2 linked regions of the Homo sapiens genome follow. The protein of the gene in region 1 interacts with the protein of each later gene in a biochemical or structural test. Each region holds a gene or a part of one and is shown in the gene's direction. Other genes may lie near its edges. The genes, in order: ADAP1 and PRKCZ.

What was found.
Region 2: the proteins of ADAP1 (region 1) and PRKCZ form a complex in vitro, tested with the Homo sapiens proteins (one study listed by BioGRID).

Annotation. Positions count from the first base shown.
Region 1 is NC_000007.14:899,922-902,866, reverse strand, and holds part of ADAP1 (arf-GAP with dual PH domain-containing protein 1), read left to right. Parts: intron 1-2,250; coding exon 2,251-2,334; intron 2,335-2,702; coding exon 2,703-2,765; intron 2,766-2,945. UniProt on the Homo sapiens protein: GTPase-activating protein for the ADP ribosylation factor family. Binds phosphatidylinositol 3,4,5-trisphosphate (PtdInsP3) and inositol 1,3,4,5-tetrakisphosphate (InsP4). Regulates the incorporation of CD63 and CD9 into multivesicular bodies.
Region 2 is NC_000001.11:2,053,112-2,056,916, forward strand, and holds part of PRKCZ (protein kinase C zeta type), read left to right. Parts: intron 1-2,329; coding exon 2,330-2,451; intron 2,452-3,372; coding exon 3,373-3,462; intron 3,463-3,805. UniProt on the Homo sapiens protein: Calcium- and diacylglycerol-independent serine/threonine-protein kinase that functions in phosphatidylinositol 3-kinase (PI3K) pathway and mitogen-activated protein (MAP) kinase cascade, and is involved in NF-kappa-B activation, mitogenic signaling, cell proliferation, cell polarity, inflammatory response and maintenance of long-term potentiation (LTP).

The DNA of each region.
Region 1 (2,945 bases):
AAGGCTTTGCACCACGGATTCCTCCATCCTAGTACGTTTGTCCCGCGGTTTTGAAATTCTCCAATGCTGTGCGTGTGTTGGCAAGGGTCCCTCGTCTTTTCATGTGCTGGGTACAGGCCCAGGGTGGCCCTTCCAGTCCAGTTACTGGTTTCCATGAGGTCAGGGATTGCTTTCTTATCTAATGATTTCCTCCCTCCACTTTCCCTGTTCTCATTTTCTGAAACTCCTGTTATTGGTGCTCTTAAACTGGTTCATTTTTCTTCTACTTTCTGGGAAATTTCTTCAACTTTGTCTCCAACACTGTGTTGAGGGTTTTGTTTCTGCTGTCATGCATTTAGTTTTTCAGAGAGCCTTTGGTTCTTGGAGTATTTATTTTTCTTTCTTTCTTTTCTTTCTTTTTTTTTTTTTGAGGCAGAGTTTCGCCCTTGTCACCCAGGCTGGAGTGCAGTGGTGCAATCTCGGCTCACTGCAACCTTTGCCTCCCTGGTTCAAGTCATTCTCCTGCCTCAGCCTCCCGAGTAGCTGGGATTACAGGCATGCGCCACCACACCCAGCTAATTTTGTATTTTTAGTAGAGACGGGGTTTCTTCATGTTGGTCAGGCTGGTCTCGAGCTCCCGACCTCAGGTGATCCACCTGCCTCAGCCTCCCAAAGTGCTGGGATTACAGGTGTGAGCCACTGCGCCCAGCCGCAATTTTTGTATTTTTAGTAGAGACCGGGTTTCACCATGTTGGTCAGGCTGGTGTCCAACTCCTGATCCTCCAAAGATAATTCCCCCCGCCCAGGGCAGACGCTTGGCCCCCAGCTGTGGGAGCTGAGGGAGTTTCCGCTGCAGCCTGCAGGGTCACAGAGCTCCAGCGTGGAGTGCACCAGGCATGCCCCGTCTGCCCGGAGCCCCAGAGTCGGCTCCATCTCCTGCTGGGGGAAAAGGGGCGATTTTCCAACCAGTTCTGCTTAGAGCCCCCTGCATTTCCGGGGGACCTGGAGCTGTGAATTCCCAAGGCCTTTGGGGCAGTGTGGTGTGGACGGGTTCAGCTTCCTCTAGGAGGAGGGAGGGCGGGGCCAAATGGGACGGGGCGGGCCGGAGGAAAGGGTGGGCGGGGGAAGGAGGGGAGGCGGGGCCTCGGGCTGGTTGGGTGGCGTGGGTGTGGCTTGTGGGCGTGGCCTAGGAGGAAGGGCCACAGGAGAAAGCAGGGCTGGAGGCCGATGAGGGGCAGTCGGGGTGGGTGGGGCTTTGCTGGGTGGGGCCACTGGAAGAGGACAGGGCAATCCCACTGCTATGGGAGGAGCCTGGGGCTACACCATCCTCCAGCTGGTGCTGGGCCGGGTGCCAGCTGGAGAAGCCGTGACTGGATTGGTCCAGTGCTGGGGGCTTTGCCTGTGGGACAAAAGTCAAGGCCAAAGGGGCTGGGGAGAAGCCTGAGGAGGGATGGGGCTCCCTGGCTCTTCCTGGGCAGGAGAGGGTGCAGCCAAGAGTAAAGATGGGCACCTTTCCAGAGGTCACCAGCTCCAGGCTGTAGGCTGAACAGGAGGCCCAGGGCGCAGGTTATAATGTCATGGGGCCAAGGGTCTGGGCAGACCCCAGGAGGGGCGCTGGGTCTAGGGGCAGGGGACAGCCAGGCTGAAGTCTAGACCCAGAGGGCACCCGACGTGGGGCTGGGTGCCAGGCCTGGGCTATGGGCCCTCTGTTCCAGGGTGCTGGCCCACCCCACGCTCTCCAGAGGACCAGGGCGGCTCCCTGGAGAGCAGTTTTGCTCTCTGCCCACTCTCGGTAGGGGCCACAGCTCCAAGGGCGTTTATAAACAGATGAGCCTCCCTTCTCCCACCACCCCAAGACTTGCTTGAGCTACAAAATAAGGATCTTCATAAAAATAGCACCATCTGAAAGGAAGGCAAGTTGGCCCAGGCCCCAGCAGCACCAGGGCCACAGAGTGAGCTTGGATGGCAGCCCCCGACCCTGTCCAGCCCGGCCCGGCCCGGCCCTTCGGCCCTTCGGCCCTTCTCAGGACTTCGCCGGGGGAGGCTGCACCTGCCCTCCCGCAGAGGGGCAGCCCCTGTGTAGCAGCCCCGGCCTCAGCGTGGGCACAGGGGCCAGGCCTGCGGCAGGACTGCTGGGAGCTGAGGTGCCGGGGAGGAGGAAGGGGCTGGGCTCTGGGGGAAGCGGCCCCTCTGTGGGGACCCCAGCCCCTCTGTGGGGACCCCAGCGCTGCAGCCTCCTCAGCCCAAGCCTGTGCCCACCTTTGCCCCTAGGAGATTGTGGACTGGTTCAATGCACTCCGAGCTGCTCGCTTCCACTACCTGCAGGTGGCATTCCCAGGGGCCGGCGACGCAGATGTGAGTGGCGGCCCTGCGGTCAGCTCCAGGGCAGACAGGGGTGGTGGGGTGGGGGGTGGACGGAGCCCTCGTGCCCTGAGTCTGGGATGATGTTGAGCCCTAGGGTGGGCCTGGGACTGGCCAAGGGCTCACCCTGACGTGCCTGCAGCCCTCCTGCCTCACTCTAGAACTTCAGCTCAGCCAAAGGGGAAAGCGGGGAGGGAAGGGGTGGCAAGCAGAGGCAGAAATGTGGATCCTGCGGAGGCTAAGCCAGGCCTGGGCCCTGACCTGGTGGCCCGGGGTGAGGGGAGCACAGAGGGGCACAGCCAGGGAGGGGCTCGGCCTGAGCTGCACTTCTGAGGTCCCCTGCCTGGTGTGTCCTGCCCTAGCTGGTGCCAAAGCTCTCCAGGAACTACCTGAAGGAAGGCTACATGGAGAAGACGGGGCCCAAGGTGGGTGTGCCGCACGTGCGGCCTGGGGTGGCCTGGGGTACGCCATGGTGGGTCTCGGACTGAAGTGCAGCAGCCTTGCCAGCTGCCGCCTGTGTTTTAAACTGGTGTCTGGTGGGTCCTCACAGCCCCTTGTCTGTGCCTGGCCGGGGTCCCCGAGGACTCGGGCCACTGTCCTAGGCT
Region 2 (3,805 bases), on another chromosome or scaffold:
AGACTTTTTTTTTTTTTTGAGTCTCGCTGTGTTGCCCAGGCTGCAGTGGTGTGGTCTCGGCCCACTGTATCCTTCACCTCCGAGGTTCAAGCAATTCTCCTGCTTCAGCCTCCCTAGTATCTAGGACTACAGACGCCCGCCACCACGCCCGGTTAACTTTTGTAGTTTTAGTAGAGATGAGGTTTCACTTTGTTGGCCAGGCTGGTCTCGAACTTCTGACCTCGTGATCCGCCCGCCTTGGCCTCCCAAAGCGCTGGGATGAAAGGCGTGAGTCACCGCGCCTGGCCCAGCTCAGACAACGTTTGTGTTCAGGGAGCTTCTGTGTGCAAAGCCCAGGGCTTGGTGCTGAGGCCAACAGAGACGCAGGAGTCTCTCCCGGGCGGCCCAGCTGGCTGCTGGGTGCTGAGTCCTGGACGCCCCTGCTGAAGGGCACAGGGCAGCTGTTTGATTCAGGATTGGGATAGGGTTGGAGGTGGTGGCCTGACACTTCCCAAGCCCTGGGGTTTTACTGGAGCCACCCACCTGGCCTCTAGATTGGCCGGAAACTGGCTTCCACTGGAGGCAGGACTGTAGGGGTAGGGGCGTGGGGCAGGAAGAGGTCAAAGGTGAAGTGATGGCCGACTCCCACTCTGGAGTTCCTGGTGGTCAGACTTTTGGACTCCAGGTCAGGCAGCAGGCGTGGATGTCAGCTTGGGGCGACCCCAGGGTGATGGGTGTGTGACCCCCCTCCATTCCTTACTTTCCTAATCTGCCATGATGCTGTGGGCTGTGGCGAAGACCAGCCAGGTTGGTTCCTGTGGGGTGCTTGGGCACTGGGGGCAGGTGCTGGGTGGCCAGTTCCAGCAGGAAGGGGTGGGTAGCTGGGGCGTCTGTCCCCCAGGCCCAGGTGGCCCAGGGTGACTGGGTGAGGCCTGTGGGGCAGGTGGGCCCTGGGCTGCTGTGTCAGGGCCGCGGCTGTGGACCGATCCTGTGTTCTGTTTGCACTGGAGTTCTTGTCTGGGATGAGAACTTTGTTTCTTGAAACTTGTCTGATGAATTCAGATAACCTTGATGGGGAGCCAGCAGTGTCAGCGAAGAGCAGAGCCTGTATCTCTGGTTGGGACATCTCACACCCCTTCAGGCTTCTTTTTATAGGCCCTGTGCTCTTGCCCCGCGCTCTTGTGGGTGTCAGAAAGCCGTAGATTTTTCTGAAAATTCAGTGTGTTCACAAGGGTGTGATTCCCGCTCTGAGTTTCAGGAAACACCAGCTGGGCCCTGTGGTGGTCCCTCCCCTCCACGCAGGGTGAGACCAGCTCTTGCTCAGTGCAGGAGGTGAGGGGGGACCTCGGGTCCCTATCAGCAGGGAAGTGCCAGCCTTCAAAGGGTGCCTGGGAGTCCGTGAGCTTCCCCAGCCCCTGGAGTTCAGGTCCTGTCTGGGGCTGAAAAGATAAAACACACTGACTCTGTGTGACTCGGTTTTAAAAAAAAAAAAATCTGCCGGGGCTTCTGCCGTGGCTGCAGCAACGGACCCAGTGCCCACTCCGGGGTCTAAAGAGTGGCCTTTCATTATGGAATTATTTAATCCCCGCCACTTCACCGCTGGCACCGTCGAGGTCTGGGGGCAGGTCTGACTGGTTTCCTTTACCTTAGTGAAGCCGGCGGCCTGCACCGACCCGGCTCGCGCCCATCCCGGGGTCACCCACATTTGGGTGAACTTGAACGAGTGCCCGACCAGGTAACGTTGCCGGACCTCCCACAAGAGGGCACTTTCTTTTCTCCCATTTTGTCCTCATTCTTTCCAGCCAGGTAGGTCGCGCTTTTTTCTCTGTGCAAGGAAGTTGATGGTGGTCATTTTTTTTTTTTTTTTTTTAATACGGAGTCTCTCTCTGTCGCCCAGGCTGGACTGCAGTGGCGCGATCTCGGCTCGCTGCAAGCTCCGCCTCCCGGGTTCACGCCATTCTCTTGCCTCAGCCTCCCGAGTAGCTGGGACTACAGGCGCCCGCCACCGCGCCTGGCTAATTTTTTGTATTTTTAGTAGAGACGGGGTTTCACCGTGTTAGCCAGGATGGTCTCGATCTCCTGACCTCGTGATCCACCCGCCTCGGCCTCCCAAAGTGCTGGGATGACAGGTGTCAGGCACTGTGCTTGGCAATGGTGGCCATTTTTTAAACTATGGTTATGGTTAATGGTTCTATTTTGTGTGTGGGAGGGGGGAGGGGGTGGGGCTGTCATATTGTCTTTGGGGAAAGTTTCATTTATCTAATCAATGATTTGGTTAGTTGGTAATCATTTTTTAATTTGATTCAAATATGCCCCACGGTAACAGATGCCCATGTCCCCTCTGCCCCAGGGACATCTTCATCACCAGCGTGGACGCCGCCACGACCTTCGAGGAGCTCTGTGAGGAAGTGAGAGACATGTGTCGTCTGCACCAGCAGCACCCGCTCACCCTCAAGTGGGTGGACAGCGAAGGTAGCCCTTGTCCCATGTTGGCCAGAATCCTCAGCCTCAGGGGACTTCGCCAGGGCAGCCTCTGTGTGCGGAGTGTGCTCAGCCAATTCTGTGGGGAGACTTAAAGCTGTGGAATTAAACTTGTTGGCGCCAACTTTTCCCCAGTGGGGATGGTGGGAAAGAGGTTGGCCACAGATGCTTATCAAGGACCTGGGCCCAGATGCCCCTAGGAAGGGCTCTGGTCTTGAACTGCCTGCAGGGGGTCTCCCTGCCCCACCCTGGGCAGGTCCTCACCTCTTCCTCTGACCTCCTTTCTCATGTCCTGGCCTTTTTCGGTAGGTGCTTCTGAAAGGATGGGCTCTTCATATTCTAGGGACCACGGGGAGGGCACAAGCAGCCAGGGCCTGCCGTGTCCACCTCCTGTCTCTTAGACACATCCTGAAAAACAAGGGGATTGGGAGACGTCCAGAGAGACCCCTTTCTCCCAGGGACTGGCGGGCAGCTCTTGGCCAAGGACACGGCCGTGCGGGTGGAGCCTGATAGCGCCCCCGTTGGGTTGGGTACAGCCCTGCAGGGCCTGGGTTCTGTACACCTCCATGTCCCTTTCCAGCCATAGAGGGCAAGGAGCTCTCCCTCCGCCCAGGACTGACCTCCGGAGAGTGTCCTCAGCCCCGCTCACTGCTTAGCCCTCCAAGTGGTGCCCAGGGCTGCAGGTGTACTGACTTCCCTTCCGGGGTGGCTCTGACGCTGCACCGGGGGCCAGGTGACTCCCTAGTGTGGACGGCCGTCCTTGGACCTCCCGACCCTGCCAGGAGGTGGCCAGTCTGAGCATCGGGACTTTGCCCCCCACCAGACCCTTGTCTGGTGTGCTGAGCGGGCTCGTCACAGCCCCCTTTGCCTCGGGCCTTCGGCGACGTCAGCACCGTCTCCTGCCCCACCCAGGTGACCCTTGCACGGTGTCCTCCCAGATGGAGCTGGAAGAGGCTTTCCGCCTGGCCCGTCAGTGCAGGGATGAAGGCCTCATCATTCATGGTTAGTGGCGGGGTCTGTGGTGGGCAGCTCTGGGGGGCTGTTCCTGGCTGTGGGTGTCTGCCGACTAGCTGGGGGATTTAAAATGGTTTAAAATCCTATGATGCCAGAGAATTTAGGGATGTCTAATATAATGCCATTTGGGTTTTTTTCTTTGACTTTTTTTTTTTTTTTTTGAGACGGAGTCTTGCTCTGTTGCCCAGGCTGGAGTGCAGTGGCACAATCTCAGCTCACTGCAAGCTCCGCCTCCTGGGTTCATGCCATTCTCCTGCCTCAGCCTCCCGAGTAGCTGGGACTACAGGCGCCCGCCACCACGCCCGGCTAATTTTTTGTATTTTTTGTAGAG